Linked DNA regions of Homo sapiens. The protein of the gene in region 1 purifies or fractionates together with the protein of each later gene. This does not show direct contact. Each region holds a gene or a part of one and is shown on either strand. Other genes may lie near its edges.

Region 1 (3,500 bases):
CTGAGCCAGGTTTTGTTTCTTTGTTTTTTTGTTTGATTTTTAAAAAATTAATTATTATTATTTTTTTAGACAGGGTCTTACTCTGTTGCCTAGGCTGAAGTACAGTGGCATGAACATGGCTCACTGTAGCCTCAACCTCCTGGCCTCAAGTGATCTTCCTGCCTCAGCCTTCCAAGTAGCTGGGTCCACAAGTATGCACTACCATGCCCAGCTAATGTTTAAATTATATGTATAGACATGGTCTCACCACGTTGCCTAGGCTGGTCTTGAACTCCTGGGTTTAAGTGATTCTCCCACCTTAGCCTCCCAAAGTGCTGGGATTACAGGTGTGAGCCACCATGCCCCGCCTTTGTTTTTAATTATGGATTTGTTGCCAACATTTAAAAACTAGAAAGGCCAGGTGCACTGGCTTACACCTGTAATCCCTGCACTTTGGGAAGCCGAGGTGGGCGGATCACTTGAGATCAGGAGTTTAAGACCAGCCTGGCCAACATGGCAAAACCCCATCTCTTCTAAAAATACAAAAACTAGGCCGGGCGTGGTAGCTCACTCCTGTAATCCCAGCACTTTGGGAGGCCGAGGTGGGTGGATCACTTGAGGTCAGGAGTTCAAGACCAGCTTGGGCAACATAGCAAGACCCTGTCTCCCCCAAAAATTAAGAAGCAAAAAATCCCCACACAAAACAAAAGAAACAAAACTATGAAGCCTGTAAACCCAGTCCAGCCTGTGTGCCACCTGATTTGGCTGTACCCCAGCACTGGGGCTCAGCAGTGAAGGTGATGCTGGTCCAGCCATGGCACTCCCTGCCTTGAAGGGTTGCTCCTGCTGCTTGGCAAATTGTGACAGCCCTTGGGGAGTCTGGCCTGGGGACATGGGGTCTTCGATCCCAGCTCAAGAAACCCAAAGCCCCCTGGACTGGGGCATATAGGGGGAGTTTATCTCCAAGAGGTTTGGCTACCCTGTGGATCCTGAGTTGTAGGAGGGGACAGGAATGGTCTGGGCAGGTCCCTGGCCCATGAAGGAAGAAAGAGCCCTCTTGGGCCGGGCGCGGTGGCTCACGCCTGTAATCCCAGCACTTTGGGAGGCCAAGGCGGGCGGATCACCTGAGGTCGGGAGTTCCAGACCAGCCTGACCAACATGGAGAAACCCCGTCTCTACTAAAAACACAAAATTAGACATGCGTGGTGGCACATGCCTGTAATCCCAGCTACTAGGGAGGCTGAGGCAGCAGAATCGCTTGAACCCGAGAGGTGGAGGTTGCGGTGAGCTGAGATTGTGCCATTGCACTCCAGCCTGGGCAACAAGAGCGAAACTCTGTCTCAAAAAAAAAAAAAAAAAAAAAAGAGCGAGCCCTCTTGGCCTGAGTCCCTGGCAGCAATGGAGCCTCATCCAGCGTGTCACTGGCACCCTGGGCAGGTGAGACTCCCCTGCCACAGGGTGGCAGGAGCAGGTGGACGTGTCCTTGGGAGGCCAGCCAGGGGCACGGCCAGTATCCAGGGACTCAAGCAGCTGCCATGTGCTGCTTTGTCTTGGGAACCCAATGCGGTGCCCACGCAGCCCCCCGGGCTGCACCCTCGACCCTGTGGCGCAGCCTCACCCGGTTGCCCTGCGCGGTGCCATCCTGTGTGCGGTAGGAGACCTGGGACTTCCCGCCGTCCAGGACACGCCGGATGACAGGGATGCGGGCCACCTGGTCCCCGCGGCTGACCGAGAACTCAGGCTGCTCAAAGGACACCACGTCTCTGGCTGCAAGGAGCCCGGGCATTTGTCAGAGTGTGCTGGGCCCAGTCCCTTCCCACCTCCTGCTCTCCTGTGACCCTGCCCAGCCCAGCCCAGAATCCAGGAGTCCGCTTGGTTCCCTCTATGCATTGCCCTCTGGGAAGGGCACAGGAGCGAAACGGAAAATCCTTCCAGAAAAAGATGAGGGGCCGGGCGCAGTGGCTTGTGCCTGTAATCCCAGCACTTTGGGAGGCTGAGGCAGGTGGATCACCTGAGGTCAGGAGTTCGAGACCAGCCTGGCCAACATGGCGAAACCCCATCTCTACTAAAGATAGAAAAATTAGCTGGGCGTGGTGGCGAGTGCCTGTAATCCCAGCTACTCGGGAGGCTGAGGCAGGAGAATCACTTCAACCTGGGAGGCAGCGGTTGCAGTGAGCCAAGATGGTGCCATTGCACTCCAGCCTGGGTGGCAGAGCAAGACTCTGTCCCAAGAAAAAAAAAAGTGGTTCTGGAACAAAGTGTCCAGCAGACATCCTGGAAGGGCCAGGCAGAGGAGGGAGGCCAGTCACGGGCAGGACCAGAGATGGAGCCTTCAGCCCCAGGGCTGGAGGAGAGCAGGAACAGGCCTGAGGCCTGTGGCTTCCGGCACAGGTGGGAGGAGGGGTCAGATGTCCACGGTGTGATGCCTTGGCCAACCCTTTTTCTAGATAGAGAGGAGCAAGGGGCTGGCCCTTATGAGGATGCAACAGAAGCTTCCATTTACTGAGCGCTCACCACCAGGCAGGCACTGTGGCGAGGTGAACAGCCACGCATTCCGTAAAAGAGCCCTTACCCATTTTACAGATGGAGAAACCAAGGCTTGCAGAGGTTAAGTGACTAGCCCAGGCCACGTGGCCAGGTCGCAATTCCACTTAAGCAGGAGGAACCAGTGCCCCCGAGCCCCCGTCTGCCTTCCCCACTCTCCCCACCCAGACCCACCTTGCTCCTTGATGATGGTGATGTTTACCAGGCGGCGGCCGAGGGTGGCAGTGCCTGCGGGCACGTCGATGGCCTCCACCAGCAGCTGCTTCTCGTCGTCATCCTCAGGCCGGATAAAGAGGGGCACCCGTACGTCCACCAGCTCCACGCCCTCCTGGAACTCCACCATGCCCCGGGCGTCTGGGTGGGGGTTCGGAGGTGGTCAGAGGTGGGTCACAGGGCCACACAGGCGGGAGGTGCGAGGCAGTGGCACAGCGGACCCGCCCTCCTACCCTGGTCTGCAGTGAGGGTGTAGTAGCCGGGGGCCACCTTGAGGTCGTGGAAGGCCCTCTGTTCCACCTGCTTCTCTGTAAGCTTCAGCAGGGCCGGCTTGGCCGAGCGGGGCGCCATCAGCACTGTGTCCACAATGGTGTGGTCTTGCCTGGGTCGAGGGTGGAAGGTTCAGGCAGCGGAGGGGTCAGGCTGGCACCTGCTGCCCTGTCCCTCCTGCCTGTCTTCTCCCCTTCAGGGGCCAGGATGTAAGACAGCAAGAAGTGCAGGGTCTTCAGAGGCAGGCAGTGCTCCAGGCCTATGCCAGCCCCATACCCTTTACCCTGCAGCCTCAGCCCAGCCATGGCGCCTCCCTGTCCTCAGCGTCCTCCTCTGTGAAATGGGCTTCTCTGCCCACCTCATCAAGGGCTGGACAGCAAAGATGCTAAGGGTGTGTGTGCTCAGGCCAGGCTGCCGCGGCCCTAGCCCTGGTTCTAGTTCTCGATAGCTGGGTAACCTTGGGCAAGTCACTTAACCCTTTTGAGCCTCAGCTT
Region 2 (4,158 bases), on another chromosome or scaffold:
CTATTCACATTTTCAGCCGATCATTCTTTGTTGTGGGAGCTGTCCTGTGCATTGTAAGATCCCTGCCCTCTACCTATTAGATGCCAGTAGCACTGCCAAGTTGTGACAATCAAAATTATCTCCAGACATTATCAAAAATCCTCTGAGGGCAAAATTACCCTCGGTTGAGAACCACTGATCTAGCCAAATACTTTCTAATAGCATGAACCCCACCATTAACCCCTAAACACTCACAGTGCACCAAACATTATAATATATACACTATTACCATACAACAGTGTCACAAACCCGTAAAAGCTGCACACTCTTCACTTGGTCCCCTTCGGTCTTATACTTAATTTAAGTGAACTCTTTCCTGCCCTGCTTATGCTTTCTTACAGGGTCAGGTCCTCACATGTGGCAGGAAACATGAAATTATTCTTTGGTGCTGACTTGATGGTCTCTTTCCTTACCTTTCTCAATAAATGTTAGCAGCTTGGCAACAAGTTGCTTATATTCTCTCTAACAGACATTGCTAAGTAATATGTCCATTCACTTGTGGCAAAAATGATTTTCCATATCAATCACAATTTGGTGGCCCACCAGTGAAGGGTTTGTGAACTATCAGTGTGCCGTGGCACACCAGTTGAGAGCTAGTACTTTTAAACATTTTTCCTGGGTGACTGTCTCTAATTATGTACTCAAGAGTCCTCAGTCTGTTTCTAGCCCAGACCTTTCTGCTGAGGTCCAGAGAAACCTAAACTCAAAGATGTCCCATTAACCCCCAACTCCGTATTTTTGAAACCAAATTTATAATATTTTGCTCCAAATCTGCTCATCCCACACTATTAGGGAACATATTCATGCAGTCTCAGAAGCAGAAGCCTAAAATTATTTCTTTCTTTTTCTTTCTTGTTTTGTTTTTTGTTTTTTTTTGAGACGGAGTCTCATTCTTGTTATTCAGGCTGGAGTGCAATGGCACGATCTTGGTTCACCACAACCTCCGCCTCCTGGGTTCAAGCAATTCTCCTGCCTCAGCCTCCCATGTAGCTGGGATTACAGGCATGCGTCACCATGCCTGGCTAATTTTGTATTTTTAGTAAAGATGGGGTTTCTCCATGTTGGTCAGGCTGGTCTTGAACTCCTGACCTCAGGTGATCTGTCTGCCTAGGCCTCCTAAAGTGCTGGGCTTACAGGCGTGAGCCACCACGCCTGGCCAACCTAAAATTATTTCTTAACATCTCCCTTTCTCCTACTGGCTGCAGCCCATCCATCACCAAGTCTTCTCAGCATGTCCTTCTTTCTATTTCCATGACCGCTTCTTTAACTCAGGTCTACACCTCTTCTCACCTGTAATGCTGCAAAAGTGCTCCTGGTCTCAGTGATTCTAGGCTGCTCCCCATCCATCCAGCCCTCATAGTACTGCCAATGGGTTTCCTAAAGTGCAAATCTGACCATTCACACCCCTGCGTGAAGTCCTCCAATAGCTCCCTTTCAATGTCAAGTTCAAACCTTGTAGCTCAGCACACAGACCCCTTGGCTGTCCCCACCTCTCTAACCTCACCTCCGGTCATCTTCCTGTATTCTCCTGAAGTTCCAGCAATACCAAACTACTTTGCAACTCCCAAATTTCCATGTTGCTTCTTGCCTCTCTACCTCCTCATTGCTCCTTCATTGGCCTGAGATGCTCTTGCACATCCCTTCTTTTTCCAGCTACTTCTTAATTGTTCTTAAAACTTAGCTCAAAAATTACATCCTTAGAGAAGTTTTCTGGGCTCTCTGTTCCCCAGTGTTCCACCTATGCCCTTACCACATAACTGTGAGGTCCTTGAGGGTAGGAACCATGTTTCGTTCATATTTATATTTTCAAAACTCCACACAGACCTCTGTTGAGCTCAGTAACTGAGGAAAGACTGACTACTGCCTTGAGTATATCTGTGTTCTGTAGCCTGAAGTTTACACAAAAAGCTTGACACCAACCATTATGGCAAACCTAAATATCCCAATTAAAGGGTGAAAAAGTAGTTAAAGCTTTAGGAGAACCCATGACTATAATGCAACACAGCATTTAATGTCTTTGACACTGTACAACAGGCCAGTGGCCTACGTACCAATCATGGCAACAGCTGCCTCTGCTTCCAAACAAACCGATGTTAGGCAAACAGTGCTGTGTGTGACCAGGTCCCCCTTCTCTTTCTCATAAGGAGCAGCACATGCTCCATTTTCAGAAAAAAATAATCTGCCTTCTTTACTCTGTCAGTCTTTCAAAGGATGTTGGAAGTGTTCTGTTAGGAAAAGCCATGATGTAATTAAAAGAAATTGCCAGCTCACAGAAGCTGTCAGCTCAATCCCACTTCTGTGGCTACCAGCCTTGCCCCGCTGAGAACAGTGAATCAGGCCCAAGAGGGGCTGCTCAGCTCTTTTTCAGGGGGAAACTCCGTCACTCAGAAGCCTACCCCTGCCTGGGAGTTTGGCCGATTTGCACACTTTAACTTCCTTTATTTGTAAAGGGAGGAAAGAGAATGGACATTCCCCTTAGGAACTTCGCAGTGAGCCAGGCCAACTCTGTACCGAGGCTGTTTGCATGCAGCAGTCCTTCCATTTCATTTACCTACCAGTCCACAGCTTTCCCTTCTTCATTTCTGCATGAAATTGTTGCTGCCCCCAGCACCCCAAAGAGGCCAAGGAAGAGCAAAGCAAAGGATGTTCTTAGCAGTCTTGCCATCATTTTCTGTTTCATTTATTTCATGCCACAGCAGGACACTTTCCCCATAGATTGTGGAGTCTGAGTTTCAAGGCGCTCTCAGGCTGTGCTGGCTCTGACGTTTGATTTGATTTACCTGTGCTGTTCGCTGTTCGGGGCATTTTCAGAGTGGGATGGATCCCATGTAATTGTGCGATTCTGTCACAACATGCCAGCGTGACTCTGGATGCCTTTGTGCTGAATTGTTGACTGGTTTGCAAAGTCATCAAAAAGTTCTGCAGAAAAATAGGGAAAGATAGTTCACTCTTTGGAGTGAACATTGTTGTATGAAATTCATTGGGCAGGGGGACTTCATTTTAATAAGTAGATGTTAAATATATTTCATGTCTTCTCCTGTTTGACTCAATGAATGAGAGCAAATGCAGGTGGTTCGTACATTAAACAGAAATGATAAAACCTTATGTCTTAGTAATAATTAGGATCTGTCACTTAATAATCTCTGTCTTAAGGAACCAGTTGCTAAGGGATACTTCAAAGGGTTGCTTCAAAGTAACAGTAAATTTAACTGTATTTTACCAAAGATGTTTACATATTCTCTCCATCTTCCTGGTTTTAGCCACTCAATGTGGTGCTTCAGGCTGCTATGCAATAGGTAAACATATTGATCACCCACTCTTCAGGTTAATAAAAAATGTTACAAACATCTATTTTGCCCAAACTATGCTTTCTCATTCTCGAAGCTGAATCTGAAGTAGAAAACCAAAATAAAATGGCCCACTACCATAACAACTATAAAAAGGTGAGACCAATTTCTTTGTGAATCAGGGAAGGAGTAGATAGACATATGAAAATAATTTCTTTAATGCATACTTTTGCATCAATTATTAAAGCTGCCATCATAATAAATAGCAGTTTACATCATGCCTGGAAATAATGCTGCCCCTAATCTGTCTCTCTGATAATCACAATGATAACTATAATAGTTCCAGATCAGAGGATCCAGACCAAACTGAACCCTTGTAAATCAGATTACCTCTGTGGTTGCACTAGAACTGTTCACAATTCTCAGGATTCATAGAAAAGGGGAAGGCTTGTGTCTCTATCCTAAGACAGAGTTTTGGGAGGAGGACTCTGTACCACCTGCCCAATTACCTGTGGTGCCTGCAAAAAAGGCAGAATTCTAGGACTTATTCCAAACCTGCTACATCAGAATTCTTCCAGTTGGGCTCAAGAATCTATATTTTTAATAAGCTTATTGGTGATGCTGGTGTACCCTAAAGTTTGAAACTCACTGCCCTGAGGCCAAGACTATGCTGTATTTGGTAGATTCACAGCTTTCTGCAGGTTAAATGAAGAAATATTTTTCTTACCCATTCCTCCATTGGTATTATTATTATTATTATTTTGAGATGAAGTTTTGCTCTTGTTGCCCAGGCTGGAGTGTACCCACCTCGGCCTGGGAATCCATCCACCTC
Region 3 (3,500 bases), on another chromosome or scaffold:
ATCCTACAATACAAAACTAATCCCTCCAAATCATCCATAGATTAAAAATCTAAACATACAAACAACTCAAAAACTTAAAAAAAAAAAGATCTTGGGCCGGGCATGGTGGCTCACACCTGTAATCCCAGCGCTTTGGAAGGCCAAGGCGGGCGGATCATGAGGTCAGGAGATCAAGACCATCCTGGCTAACACAGTGAAACCCCATCTCTATTAAAAATATAAAAAATTAGCTGGGCGTGAGGGCGTGGTGGCGGGCACCTATAGTCCCCGCTACTAGGGAGGCTGAGGTAGGAGAATAGCGTGAACCCAGGAAGCGGAGCTTGCAGCGAGCCGTGATTGCGCCACTGTGCTCCAGCCTGGGCGAAAGTGCAAGACTCTGTCTCGAAAAAATAAAAATAAAAAAATTAAAAAAAAAAAAAAGATCTTGGCTTAACATATTAGTTCAAATAATTATATTTACCATTATCTGCTTAGTAAACTTGCATATTCATCCCCTAGGAAACAAATAGCTACAAAATATAAATTAAAATCTTAACCGTTTGGAACTTAAAAGATGAGACTTCTTTCAAATATGAATAATCCAGATTTAATACACTAAATAAACTAAGTCAAACATTAGAAAAACATTAATTAGGACACACAGAAGCTTTGCCCTTCTGATTTTATTCAATATTTACTATGTATCCTAAGTTGTCCATTAATCTAAAGATAGTTTAAACAACTGCCAACTCAAATCCCTTTTTTAGCCCAATTCTCACACCATTACCAACTGTCCAACAAAACAAAACAAAAAGACTCAAATTCACAGGTAGGTCCTATCTAAAGAGAAAGATTCAGAGACATGGTAGAAAAGCTTAAAATCACCGTCACCAAATCGAAGATTTAAAAAAAAAAGCTTAAAATCATGAATTGGTATGGGTAATTGTCCAATAGGTAAAAACACCCAAATACAGATTTTGCCCTTCTGAAGGTCTATCTGGGATGTAAATGCCTACATTCCCTGAAATAATGTTGAAGGAATGCAGTATCACCTAACACAGTACCTTTCTGCTGTATCTCTAAGAAAAACCCAATTCTCATTCTTTAAGCACAGAGCAACTTCTCTTAGGAACAACTGTCCCCAAACAGAATATTTGATAATGCTCCAGTTTCCTAAGAAATATCAACAATAAAGATCAAATCAATTTGCCTGCCCAAAACTGTTACACCAAACAAGCATCACTAAAAATAGGAGGCAGAAAACTAGGAAGGGCTGTTACAGAAAGATTTTGGAAAAAATAAATCCAAAAAAACACATTGTCCAACACACATAGTTGGCTCTTTCTCTGCCTCTTCTAACCCCTACACATATATGCACCTTGACTAAAATTGGCGATACTGTTACTTCTAAACAGCTTAAGTACTAATGTTTACCTAACGAAATAAACCAGGTTTCAGGTTTCAATGCTGTGGGTGTTTCAACTTTTTCTTTCCTTATTAATAATAAGTATATAATAGGACACATACTCTTCATTATTTTCTAAATCTTCCCAAAATTATTTTTCACTAAAAACACGTATTTATGAGCCTAAATGCTCCTTTGTTAAGAACTACCAGCAATTAATTTGCGCTTCTTAGAATCATGTAGCTTTTCCAAGCTGAGGATCATTTGGCTTGTATTTTAGGCCTTCCAAATTCTAGGATAAGTTATACATTATTTAAAAGGTGAAATATGGCTGGACTCACACCTGTAATCCAACAGTTTGGAAGGCTGAGGCAGGAGGATCACTTAAGTCCAGGAGTTCAAGACCAGCCTGGGAAACACAGTGAGACCTCGTCTCTACCTAAATAGTAAATAAATAATTTTTTTTAAAAGATGCAAACTTAATCCATTCATTTACTGAATACCTTTAAGCATCAAAATATTATTTCTTAGGTCTTTAAGACATAAAGATGAATAACATCATCTCTTCAACTAAAGAAGTTCAAAACCCAATGGAAAATGTCTAAATAACAGCATATTAAATGCCTTAAGAGTAGTGCACAAGGTTAAATAGACCTAAGAATGAGATCAAAAGTTGAATCAGGCATTAAAAAAAACAAACACCACAGGCTGGGCGCAGTGGCTCACGCCTGTAATCCCAGCACTTTGGGAGGCTGAGGCAGGCAGATCACTTGAGGTCAGGAGTTCAAGACCAGCCTGGTCAACATGGTGAAACACCATTTCTACTAAAAATACAAAAAAATTAGCCGGGCATTGTGGCGTGTGCTTGTAATCCCAGCTACTCAAGAGGCTGAGGCAGGAGAATTGCTTGAACCTGGGAGGCGGAGGTTGCAGTGAGCCGAGACCGTGCCACTGCACTCCAGCCTGGGCAACAGAGCAAGACTCCATCTCAAAAAAACAAAAAACAAACACAAAAAAACAAAACCATGAAATAAATAATACAGCCATAATTCCACACAGAAATCATATGTTTGTTAGGGGGGTAAACCTATATGCAAATAGTTTTTTCACCATTAAACTGGCAAAAACAATAAGCAAGGAGCTTCAGAAGAGATCCTTGAACACTATAAGGTAATTCCAATAGCTCTCTACATGCAAAATTGAACTTCCCTACTAGAGTTGAAAAAAAAATCACAGCAATAAACCTTTAGCAGTGATTTTGCTTGTCTGCAATAATTTCCCTCTGTTAGGGGGCACAAATCACAAATCTTAGCACCAAGAGAAAAATGACTATCCATATATTTTAGTAATAAATTTAAGATAGTATCAGGTTTATTCTACAAACTTGAACTTCAATGCTACTAAAAGGCTAAATCTACACCTGCATCTTGTAGGACTCTTTGTCCACCCCATCCCTTGGCATTTTTCCAAAGCAAATCCATGATTCAATGGTTTTAATTTTTTTCTTATTATTCTTTAGTCTCATTGAGTTTATTTTTCTCATCCATGATTTCAGGTTATTTTGGATACTCTCTTTTCCTCCAGATTTTCAATATTGTCTTAAATATCAAGCAAGGTACAGCTCATTCATATTTTCCATCCTTAAGGTGTTATTTAATGGTTATTTTAGTTGAAGCTGAATACAGTATCTAGGATTTGCTTCGAAGTAATGGGGGTGAGAGAAGCAAATGAAGTCATGGAGGAAACAAGATTAGCCATAAATTGAAGCTCTATGACAGGTACTTCATATATTATACTGTTTTTCTTACATGTTTGAAATGTATTATTAAAAAGTTAAAGAAAAGGCTATATGAAGATGACTTCCTTGTTGATAATCAGATGTCTAAATTGCCTTTCAGACTTAAGGAAAAGATATAAGAACCACCAAAAAGGTTTGGACAAGTTGAGTGTGCAAAAGAAAAATGGCTATCACTGATACTAACACACTAAGAGAAATCCATGAATCCATAGCGATACTTAATCTTTAGGAAGAAAAAAAGTCTTTTTTGCAGAAAGTATGAGCCAGTAAACAGACACAGACCAACAGAATTGTGGGTTTTAAAAACAAAACAAAACC
Region 4 (3,500 bases), on another chromosome or scaffold:
ATGAGTTACTCAGGCAGCAGCCCCCCTCCTGTTCCATCCAGCCCAGCCATGGGGCGCTCCTGGGGGAAATTGCTCCCCGAAAAGACACACCAACCACAGGAAACAGAAATTGAACCGTTTATTAGCCTAGGTCTGGGTTTCAGGCATTGCGGAGGCACGTCTGGGGAGCTCTATGAGGGGAAACAAGCCCCTGACTGGCTCCTTGCCCCCCAAAGACCCGCTCCCCCAGGCTTTGCATTCACAAGAAATTACTCTGAGGCATGAGGTTTCCTTCCCCAAGGTGAGCTGCACCCCAGCTCTCCAGTGGGAGGATGGGCCAGCAATTCCAAAGGGGTCTGGGCAGGACCAGAGCTCCCCGACTTTGGCAGCTTCAACACAAACATGAGCAGACAGGACAGCATTCATTCTGGGGGAAATGTGACGAGGAGAGGAGGGTCACAGACATCACGCCTATGTGCACACGCGCGCGCGCACACACATACACACACACACACATAAATATACGTTTGTACCGTAACATCCCTTCCATTATCCACAGGTTTTTGTGAAGTCCTTCTGGGGGGTTAGGGGAGAGTGTCCCCAGGAAATGTCCCTAGCCACTGCCACCCCCATGCTCCATTCTATATAACTTGAAAGAAGAAGGCCGGGCACAGTGGCTCACGCCTGTAATCCCAGCAATTGGGGAGGCCGAGGCGGGCGGATCACTTGAGGTCAGGAGTTTGAGACCAGCCTGGCCAACGTAGTGAAACCCTGTCTCTACTAAAAATACAAAAATTAGCCAGACATGGTGGCAGGTGCCTGTAGTCCCAGCTACTCGAGAGGCTGAAGCAGGAGAATCGCTTGAACCCGGGAGGTGGAGGTGGCAGTGAACGGAGATTGAACCACTGCCACCTCAGCCTGGGTGACACAGTGAGACTCCATCTCAAAAACAAAACAAAAATCTTGAAACTGTCTCAAAAAAAAAATCTTGAAAGAAGACACAGCGGGGTTCTTGAAAGAAGACACAGAGAAGGCTCAAGGCTTCTCTCTGCCTTGCTCAGGAGACCTGGTACCTTAGCTGGGGCTGCAGGTGTGGAGCTGAGAATAGCTTGGGGGGTGGCTGTTTTTGAAAGGAGGGTGTCTGTGCAAATATCACACCCAGAATTTTCTCAAGTTGCGCCTTGCATCAAGAGTCCCAAAGTCCTCCCCAGCCACCCAAACTCGTTTTTCTCACTTTTGGTGATTATTCTGTGCCCCAAATAGTGCAACTGAGCAATGAGGTCTGAGAATGAGGAATGGACCTCAGCCGCCATCCCCTCCCCACCTCCAGCCGTGGTTTCCGGGCCTCAGAGAGACGGGGAGAAGTCGTCAAGTGGCAGCTGATGAAATTTGGGGAAGCTGTGGATTTGGGCTCTGGATGGTCAGAGAGGAGGCCTCTAGCTCCTCAGGACAGTGGTTCTGTAGTCGCACGAAGTTGCCCAGAGAAGGTGGCAGGAGGAATACATTCGAAAAGGAGAAATCGGTGCAGGACTAGGGGCCAGGGAAGAAAATGCAGAAATTCTTTGTACCGCCAGGTGAGGTGGCTTACGCCTGTAATCCCACACTTTGGGAGGCCAACACGGGCGGATCATGAGGTCAGGAGTTCGAGACCAGCCTGGCCAACATGGTGAAACCCCGTCTCTACTAAAAATACAAAAAAAAAAAAAATTACCTGGGCGTGGTGGTAGGCACCTGTAATCCCAGCTACTCAGGAGGCTCAGGCTGGAGAATCGCTTGAACCTGGGAGGTGGAGGTTGCAGTGAGCTGAGACCGTACCACTGCACTCTCCAGCCTGGGCAACAGAGCGAGACTTCATCTCAAAAAAAAAAAAAAAAAAAAAAAAAAAAAAAAAAAAAGCCGGGCACGGTGGCTCACGCCTGTAATCCCAGCACTTTGGGAGGCCGAGGCGGGCGGATCACGAGGTCAGGAGATCAAGACCATCCTGGCTAACACGGTGAAACCCCATCTCTACTAAAGGTACAAAAAATTAGCCAGGTGTGGTGGCAGGCGCCTATAGTCCCAGCTACTTGGGAGGCTGAGGCAGGAGAACGACATGAACCCAGGAGGCGGAGCTTGCGGTGAGCCGAGATCACGCCACTGCACTCCAGCCTGGGCAGCAGTGCAAGATTCCGTCTCAAAAAAAAAAAAAAATCCTTTGTACCAGGTGGTAAAGTGCTCCTGCCCTGAGCTCCCCTTAAATGCTGCCTGCCCTCACCCTGGCTCTTCACAGGTCCCCTGCCCTGGCCTCCCCAGGATCCAGTTCTAAAGGGGTCACACTAGCCACTGGACTGGCCCTCAGGACCGCACTGCAACACTGCTATGTGACTAGTCAGTGCCTTATCTGGCCTTTCCAGGTGTGAAATATTTGCAACATCACCCAGGTCTGTGGGGCGGGGGCATCTGGCTCAGTAGCCCCAAGTCTCTATCTGGGGTCACCCAGTGGCCTCTCCATGAACCCCTCTGCCCTGGCCTGGTTGTTGGTCCACCCCCACCCTCAGACCACCGTGTTGCCCTCCAGAAACGTGGGTGACGTGGGCATGTGCATGCCCCTCTCCAGGGAGCTGGAGCTGCGGAGTGGCAGGAGGTGGTGGCCCGGGGTCCCGCCCCGCCTCCGTCCTTGCACCCCCACCCCCGGCCTCCAGCACTGCAGCGGCCGAAGCACCTCCCGCCGCAGGTCCCGGCTGCGCCACGTGTAGATGACGGGGTTGAGCAGGGAATTCAGGGTGGAGACGGCGAAAAAGTAGTGGGCTTTGTAGAGGATCGGGCAGGAGTGGACGGGACAGGCATAGTCCAGAAGGAGGATGCTGAAGGCGGGCAGCCAGCAGACGATAAAGACGCCTAGCACGATGGTGACCGTCTTGAGCAGGGCTAGCGTCTGCGGGGCGGCCATGTCAGCGTGGCTTGAGCGGACCACGCAGTAGATGCGCACGTACAGGGCCACGATGGCCAACAGGATGATGGAGAAGATGGTCACCACGCACAGCACATAATGCTTGGCGTAGAGAGGCAGGACAGTGGAGCAGGCCTCGAGGTGGCCCAGGCAGTTCCAGCCAAGGATGGGCAGGCCACCGAGGACCAGCGAGATGAGCCACGAGGCCCCGATGAGCAGAAGCATGCGGCAGCTCTTGTCGCTGCCATACAGCTTGACCTTGGCAATGGCCACGTGGCGCTCAATGGCGATGGCCAGGAGGCTGAAGACAGAGGCCGAGAGCGTGATGAAGGCAGAGCCCTCCCGGGCAAACCACTGCACAGGCGTCAGCCTCAGCGTGACAGAGCCAGAGAGCAAGGTATTGGCTACGAAGGCCACGCCTGCCAGTAGATCGGAGGCGGCCAGGTTGCCCAGAAACAGGTACATTGCCGAGTGGAACTTGCTGTTTCGGGCCACCGCAATGAGCACCAGAAGGTTTTCCACCACAATGGCGCAACAGAGGATGACGATGAAGGCCGAGGCCACCTGGCGGGAGGTCGTCTCCTGCGTTTCC
Region 5 (4,119 bases), about 26 Mb from region 1:
CTACGAACCCCAGTTTAAGAGCCTGTCCAAGACCACGAACCATCCCACTTTTCCAAAGAGACTTTCAGGCTAACAGAATATGAGGCTGCAGCTCGTCTTACTAGTTAGTTCCTCTGAGTTGTGCACTCAGGCAGCTGTTTGCATCTGGCTACACAGCTGGCTGCAGCTAAGCCCAGCTGGCTCTCCCAAATGGCCGAGGGGTCGAATTTAGTGAGATGAAGAGAAGGGCCAAGACACAGAACCACCCTTAGGAAAGACTGAGGATACTCAAGGGAGAGAACTGCCCCTCAGAGGTTCATTAGCTTTAGAACCTTCTGGGCTCTTGGCAGGCTGAATGCCAGCTCCAGCTTCCCAGACAGAAAAGTAGAACCCCTTTGCTCAGCCACCCTGGGCGGGGCCCATGGGTAATGAGGATGCATCCAGGTTCTGGCCTCAGCGCAAGAGCCTTCAGGTGCTCCTTGGAGAAAGGCACATGTGCAGAGGATTTTACGCACTTTATCTCGTTACAGCCCCACTAACATCCCAGCAGAAGGCATGCTGTTCCCCTCCCTCCAACATGTGCGGAAATTCAGGTTCAGGTATTGGTAACAGATCTGAGACAGGACACTGGCCATGGGACCTCCAAGCCTCTTCTCCCTCTACCATATCAAGTTGCTTCTCACAGGCCAGCAGCAGTGGGAAAGAGCACTAGATCCAGGTCCAACCCGTTTTGGGGGAAACCTGGCCCAGGGAGGGGAAATATCTTGCTCAAGGTCACCAGGCAAAAGGGTTGCGGAATCATTATTGACTCTTTCTTTCCAGTCTGATCTCTTTACCTATGTTATCTTATATCATGCAGATTTGGCATTGAAAGTCTGAAAATCTTTTTCTCAGTTAGGGCAGAAAGAGCTGATGTAGAAACTTGTGCTCATGGTGGCTCAGGATCTCCAAAAGATAGAGGGTTGGCTAAGGCCAGGTGGCAGCTGCTGGGGCCAGGCTGGGAAGGGTGTGGTAGCCCTAGCCTCTGCAAGAGCAAGATGGAGTTGAGGTTAAGTCCAGGTAGGTAGGCTGGGTCAGGAGGGCAGAACCAAGGCGGGGGCAGAGTTTGGACTTTGGACATTCTAAACTTCCTCAAGCTCTGCAGGCCCCAGCCAGAGCAGGGAGATTTTCCAGTGTACCCTGGATGTGACCACGTCTTCTTGTTCAGTGGGGTCAGAGGCCAGGTGGGGGCAGAGGCTAGGTGGGGGCAGATGCCTGGCAGATCGCCCAGCCCAAAGTGGTGGATGGTACCTGCTTAACCTGTCCTAAACACCGTCCCTCTTTGGACAGCTTCACCTCCCCCAACCGCCAACCTCCGCGCGCTCTGAGGCCACGGCAGAGAGACCTCTGAAGCCTGGACATGCTCCTGGGCATGAGGGCGTCTGGTGGAGTGAGGGGGACCCAGGAGGCTGGGTGCAACCTCCTCCTCCTTCCTCCACTGTGCATAGCTCTTCCCCTCCTCCTTGCAGCTGTTGGGGAAGGAGAACAGAAGAAAGAGAAAAACACTGTTTCCCTCTTCAAACCAAAACAAACACACTCAGGGTTGAAGATCCAACACGAATCTGTGGAATGCAGGGAAGATGTCTGCGGGGAGAGTGCCACTGCTTGCGGGTGGGCAGGAGGAGACCCAGCCAGAGTTGGGACAAGTCCTCCTCTCTCTTTCACCGCCCCTATCCTCAAGGCGTCAGAGGGAGCGTATGGACAGCTCCAAACGCCCAGACTCACCCATCGCCTCACCCTCCATCCGCCAAGCCAGCGGTTGAGAAGGCCATCCAGTCTGGCTCTGCAGAGGGTGTGGCTGGCGTGGCCGCAGACTACCAGCGAGGTGCTTAAATGTATATGCTCATTTTTCCCCCAAGCGTACGGGAAGGGGGGAGTCCGCTGGGTGTTTATCTTGCAGTTTACCCCAGCTCCCAGCCCTGGAGAGAACAGGCTAGTGCTGGGTACTCGGTTCACAGAATGGGAGAGGACTCAGCCACCGGGACCCCACTTCCGCTCTCATGAGAGATCTAAAGGGCGGAGGGGTGGCGTCCAGACAGGTTCTGGCCCCGTCAGCACTTGCCAATGATTACTGCCCGACCCCACACCCAATCCTCCACTTCCCGCCAACCCCCAGCAGCCAGAGGGCCGCCCCTTAATCCTGGCTCCCAAGGGCCAGCTGCCCTGGGCTCCGACTCAGCTCCGGACCCGCATCCCGCGCTCGCACACTCTCTCGCTCCCACCCCACACCCTCCAGCTTCACTTACAGGTAGCGCTGCTGCCGCTCTGTCTGCCGATGGAGGGCGACCGAGTAGCCGAAGAGGCTGCCCGGGTTCCCGGCCTCCTTCACTACCAGGAATCGGGTATCCAGGTTGAAGGCGGAGACGACGCAGCCGCCGGCCGCCACCATCAAGGCGAGCGCACAGAGCATCAGGCGTGGGGCGCGGGGCGCGCGGCTGGGGCCGGGGCCCATGGCTGCCAGCGGAAGCGGGGTCCCGGCGAGAGCGCGTGAGGGCGCGGAGCTGGGCGTGAGGACCTGTTCACCTGCTCCCCGCGCCGCCGGAGGACACTGGAACCCGCCGGCCGCTGCGCTCCGTAGCGCTGATCGGTTTCGTGCCCCCAGCCCCAGCCAGTTTCACAGCTGCGCTCTCGGATCCCTTCCTAAGATCCGTGGGTCTATCTTCCTGCCTCCCCAGCGGCCGGGTCGCCGCCGTCCCTGCCCCGGGCAACCGGCCCCCAGCTTGTCCCGGCCGCGCCCCCTTGGCCGCGCTGTCGCCTTCGATCCCGGCTTCGCGGCGGATCTGGCAAGCGCACCGGTCGACCGCAAGGAGGACAGGAGGGAGGGGTCCCCCGGCGCGCGCCCCGCCTCCCCACGCCCAGTCCCGCACCTCCCCACCTTGCGAGCCCAGCCCGGGCTGCGCTTTCCTTCCGGGGAAAGAGAAAAAGATCCCGGCTCGGCCGCCTCCTCTTAAAGGGGCAGCACCGCCCCTCCCTCCTCATCCTCCCTACCCCAGCTCCGCCTTCTCCCCCAAACACCTGTCGGCAACCCCCAAAGGCTTAGATTTCCCCTCCCCGCCCCTCGCTTCTCCGAGAAAGCGTCGCCTGGGGAGCAAGATGGATGTGACGGGCGGGGCCGGGGGTGGGATTTGTCTGGCCGCTTTCCTGCGGCTGCTGCTGCTGCTGCTGAAAAGGCCAGCCGGGCTGGAGAGACCTGGCATTGGCGCATCTGGGAACCGACGTCCGTGCGCGGCTGGCTAGAATGCTGGACTCGCCTCCGCAGCGCTGTGAGTCCCCAAGAGGTGGCTGGCGGTCTCTGGGAGTTCTTCCTCGCACTCAGGCCCCTCGCTGTCTTTGCCGAGATTTATTTCTCCTATCCACTCACCCTGATCCGAGCTGAGATTGGCTCCTCAGCAAAGACAGACATATTTAGCAGTGGTAACAACCAAATGTCGCTAATTATAATTACCAAAAAGCATTTTTCCCCCTAAGTGCTGCGACTTCTGGTATCAAAGGCTAAGACTGTCAATGTAGAAATGAGTCCGTCCTTCACAGAACGCACTGCGTAGCCGGGAAGCTGAGCCTAGACCGTATCCATTTCTCGTCCACTCCTGCCTTCAGGGCCCAGCCCAGCAGAATCCCAGAGGCTCCCTCTTCCCACCCAAGCTCGAACAGAGTGTTTGGAGACTGGGCTCGGACGTCAGCACCCATCAGGTGTTTGGTGGGTAGGGCCAGGTGGCAGTAAGTGGGCGGAGACTAAAGGTCTCCTCCACCAAGGAATCAAATCGAAAGGGAACTTCAAGAGGTTACTCTGGCCAGGCGCAGTGGTTCACGCCTGTAATCCCAGCACTTTGGGAACCCGGGGAGGGCGGATCACGAAGTCAGGAGTTCGAGACCAGCCTGGCCAATGTGGGGAAACCCTGTCTCTACTAAAAAAATACAAAAATTAGCCGGTCGTGGTGGCGGGCGCCTGTAGTTCCAGCTATTTGGGAGGCTGGGGCAGGAGAATCGCTTGAACCCGGGAGGCGCAGGTTGCAGTGAGCCGAGATCGCGCCACTGCACTCCAGCCTGGGTGACAGAGTGAGACGTCGTCTCAAAAAAAAAAAAGAGGTTACTATGTACTTT
Region 6 (3,500 bases), on another chromosome or scaffold:
ATAGGCATCTGGCATTTCCCCTGCTGGCACTCATTCTCTCTCCTGATGCCCTGTGAAGAGGTGCCTTCTGCCACAATTCTAAGTTTCCCAAGGCCTCCCCAGCCATGTGGAACTGTGAGTCAATTAAACCACTTTCTTTATAAATTACCCAGTCTCCGGTATTTCTTCAAAGCAATGTAAAAGAATGGACTCATACAGATTGCCAGACAATACAAGAAGAATAAATTCAAACCCAAATCCATGTGAGGACGAGCTTGTGATTACAAGGTCACGGGACACTTCCAAAACCTGCCCCCCCACACACAGAAAAAATATCTAGAGCAAAGACCAAAAGAGAGAAGTTTCTCTATTGTCTCCCTGCACGGAAGGAAGCACTCTGTGGCCACCAGGTTTTATAGGAGAGTCTCCAACAGTGTGTGTGTGTGCGCCCAATGCCTAGTCTTCCCTCCCAGCAGGCACGACCAATAAAGGCCAACAAGTGTTCCCAGAACAGTCACACCTTCAAGGCTGGTCATCATTCGGGTTTCAGCATCCTCTTTTTTTTTTTTTTTTTTTTTTTGAGACAGAATCCCAATCTGTCACTCAGGCTGGAGTACAGCGGTGTGATCTCGGCTCACTGCAACCTTCACTTCCCGGGTTCAAGCCAATTCTCACGCCTCAGCCTCCCAAGTGGCTGGGATTACAGGCTCATGCCACCTCGTCCAGCTAATTTTTGTATTTTTAGTAGAGACAGGGTTTCACCATGTTGCCCAGGCTGGTCTCAAACTCCTGGCCCCAAGTGATCTGCCCACCTCGGCTTCCCAAAGCTCTGGGATTACAGGCCTGAGCCACCACGCCTGGCCTCGGCTTCCTCTTCATTATTAGTCCTTGAGATTTCTCCAGTTTCTCAGAGTTCAGTTATGACTTCAAGAGAAAGTCCTCTATATTTTTTTTCAGCGTGTGGGTATTCTATACAAAAAGGTTTTTAGACGATCTAGTCTGCCAGACTGCTGAAAGCCAAAGTCCAAAAGAACTCTTGACGGTTAGAGGACATCTGTTTCCACATGTCTTTAAGAGTTCAATAAAAGATTGGTTTCCAAACCCGGCCTGTAAAAATATAGATTCCCGGGTCTTACCTCCACATTTTAGGAATCAGAATCTCCAGGGTTAGGGCCTCAGAATTTCCATTTTTAAACAAGCTTCCCAGGTGATTCCGATGTGCCTATCAGTTTGAGGACCACTGAATTCTTTTTTTTAATTTGTCTTACCTTCAAAAGCTGGCAAAAAAATTATTTAATCTCCTTTTTGTATTTTTTCTCCTTTCACTTCCTCTTTACCCTACCCAGAATTTACACCCTAATGAAAGGGGAAAATGAACTCTAGCTTTCAACTGGTAGATCAGCGAGCCACCTCCACGGCAATTACAGAAAATCATAACACTCAGCAGCAAAAGTCAGGCCAAAAAATATCATTATTCCAGGCAGGCTTCTTGACCCAGCAGCAAATTTAAATCTAAAAAACAGTCCCCATGCTGAGTTCTGCCTCCATAAGGATCATTGAGCATAACAGCTCAATCCTTCAAACTTTCCTAAAGCGTAACAGAAGCACTAAATGAGCACTGGGTCACCAGAAGACACTAAGATTCCCCTGGAATCCCCTGAAGTTATATACAAAATCATTTGTGTGTGCTCAAGTATTATGTGTAATACTGCAAATGTGTCTTTTTATAAAGAAAAAACACACAGCTTTCTCCAGATTCTCAGTGGGTCCTATGACTCCATTACTCTATATCCCTGCTGCGTAGAAAAAGCACATTTCTGGTTGTAAGCATCTTTCAGTATTATCAACATATGTTCTTATTAGGCATATTATTATAACTTCCCAAGTATATTCTGTCAAGCCTCAAAATAGACTTATCACCTCAAAAAGGGGCCTCCACAGTCAAATTTACTTGGGAAGCACTAAACCTACTACCCCCGTCATTCATTTTAGAGATTCATTCATTTTAAAGGCTCTGACTCACTAGCTCCGAAGCTAGCTCTGAAAAGCCCAGCTACAAAGAAGCTTCTTTAACATGTATTTTCTACATCTCTTTAACCACATCTCTCAAAAGATTGTGAAACAGTCTGAGAAATATTGGTCTAATTTTAAAATTATCTCAAGAGTATCTTTAACCCAATGCAGTTGCTTGAGGAACTTATGCTTACTATTACTATTCACTGTATTTAATATTACATATTATATAGAATTATTATTATCCTTGTGTCTTATGCTTATACACGCTAAGCTTACATCATCATGTAGACACAGTCCTCACTAAATACAGCACATAATTTTTGACTGATTAGTAAATGGTCTCCACCCAGAACTTTGAATAAATCTTTCAACACCCTATAAAAGCTTCTAACTAATCCCCATACTTCTTTCCACAATTTAATACAGCCTATAACCCCAGCCAAGTAGTGAAACATTCTAAATAAACCAGGCTCCAAGATTAATTCTAATGAAAAAAAAAAAAAATCCGTGCGACTAACAAAATATAAGGTTGGAGCAACCCGTCTTGGAGGAGTAGGAAGGCTTCCATTCTGTACCTAACAGGACAGGCCAAGTATCTGATGAGCACACCTGGAAGGCCAGAGCTTGAGTTCAAAGAAGACACACGCAACATTAAAGCACAACAGAAAAGAAGAGACCACACATAGGCATATCCAGCCCTTTCAATTATGATCACACGAAGATTTCTTAGAATTCATTTTAGAACGAGGATTCTCAACCTTGGCACTACCAACAGTTGAGGCCAGATAATTCTTTGTTGTGGGATATTGCCCTGTGCACTGTAGGATGTTTAGCAGCAACCCTGGCCTCTAGAGGCCAGCAGCACCCCTCTCCCCTGGCTGTGACAAAAAGGTCTCCAGGCATTGCCAAACATCCCTTGGGGAACAAAACTGCCCCTCCAGCTCCCACTGAGAACCACTGCTCCAGGGGAAAACTGCAGCAGCTAATGTTTTTGCTACAGGTTTAAACCAGTTATTTCTTTTCCTAAAAATATAAAGAAGCTTTTCTTGAGCTGAGTTTGATACAGGATGCATAAACATTCACACATCCAAAAATCCCAAGTTAAAAAAGGAAAAAGGAAAACATTCCAATTGAGGGACATTCTGCAAAGTATGTAACCAGTACTCCTCAAAACTGTAGGTCATCAAAAACAGGAAAAAGTCTGAGAAACTGTTACAGCCTAAAGAAGCCGAACAGACACGACAACTAAATGTAGTGTGCTATCCTGGATGGCAGGCTGGAAGAAAAAAAGGAGGGTAGGTAAATACGAAGGAAAACTGAGTAAACAATGAATAATGTATCAGTATTGGTTCATTAATTGGAACAAATATAGGAATGTGAGAGATTAATAAGAGAAATGGGTGTAGGGCTTACAAAAACTATGTCATTTTTCTGTAAATCTAAAGCTGATCTAAAAAATAAAGTTTTTAAAAAAACTTTTTAATTAAAATGACAAGAAGGATGGG

The links.
Region 2: the proteins of ITGB4 (region 1) and DNASE2B purify together in Homo sapiens (co-immunoprecipitation; one large-scale study listed by IntAct). This does not show direct contact.
Region 3: the proteins of ITGB4 (region 1) and CSTF3 fractionate together in Homo sapiens (co-fractionation; one large-scale study listed by BioGRID). This does not show direct contact.
Region 4: the proteins of ITGB4 (region 1) and S1PR2 purify together in Homo sapiens (co-immunoprecipitation; one study listed by IntAct). This does not show direct contact.
Region 5: the proteins of ITGB4 (region 1) and ITGA3 purify together in Homo sapiens (affinity purification with western blotting, with the first as the bait; one study listed by BioGRID). This does not show direct contact.
Region 6: the proteins of ITGB4 (region 1) and NT5DC3 fractionate together in Homo sapiens (co-fractionation; one large-scale study listed by BioGRID). This does not show direct contact.

What each region holds. Positions count from the first base shown.
Region 1 is NC_000017.11:75,741,959-75,745,458, reverse strand, and holds part of ITGB4 (integrin beta-4 isoform 1 precursor), read right to left. Parts: intron 3,119-3,500; coding exon 2,970-3,118; intron 2,878-2,969; coding exon 2,698-2,877; intron 1,747-2,697; coding exon 1,598-1,746; intron 1-1,597. UniProt on the Homo sapiens protein: Integrin alpha-6/beta-4 is a receptor for laminin. Plays a critical structural role in the hemidesmosome of epithelial cells. Is required for the regulation of keratinocyte polarity and motility.
Region 2 is NC_000001.11:84,397,126-84,401,283, reverse strand, and holds the start of DNASE2B (deoxyribonuclease-2-beta isoform 1 precursor), read right to left. Parts: upstream 2,801-4,158; 5' UTR 2,720-2,800; coding exon 2,595-2,719; intron 1-2,594. UniProt on the Homo sapiens protein: Hydrolyzes DNA under acidic conditions. Does not require divalent cations for activity. Participates in the degradation of nuclear DNA during lens cell differentiation.
Region 3 is NC_000011.10:33,154,981-33,158,480, forward strand, and holds part of CSTF3 (cleavage stimulation factor subunit 3), read right to left. Parts: intron 1-3,500. UniProt on the Homo sapiens protein: One of the multiple factors required for polyadenylation and 3'-end cleavage of mammalian pre-mRNAs.
Region 4 is NC_000019.10:10,221,332-10,224,831, forward strand, and holds the end of S1PR2 (sphingosine 1-phosphate receptor 2), read right to left. Parts: coding exon 2,513-3,500; 3' UTR 102-2,512; downstream 1-101. UniProt on the Homo sapiens protein: Receptor for the lysosphingolipid sphingosine 1-phosphate (S1P). S1P is a bioactive lysophospholipid that elicits diverse physiological effects on most types of cells and tissues.
Region 5 is NC_000017.11:50,054,791-50,058,909, reverse strand, and holds the start of ITGA3 (integrin alpha-3 preproprotein), read right to left. Parts: upstream 2,801-4,119; 5' UTR 2,471-2,800; coding exon 2,265-2,470; intron 1-2,264.
Region 6 is NC_000012.12:103,831,235-103,834,734, forward strand, and holds part of NT5DC3 (5'-nucleotidase domain-containing protein 3), read right to left. Parts: intron 1-3,500.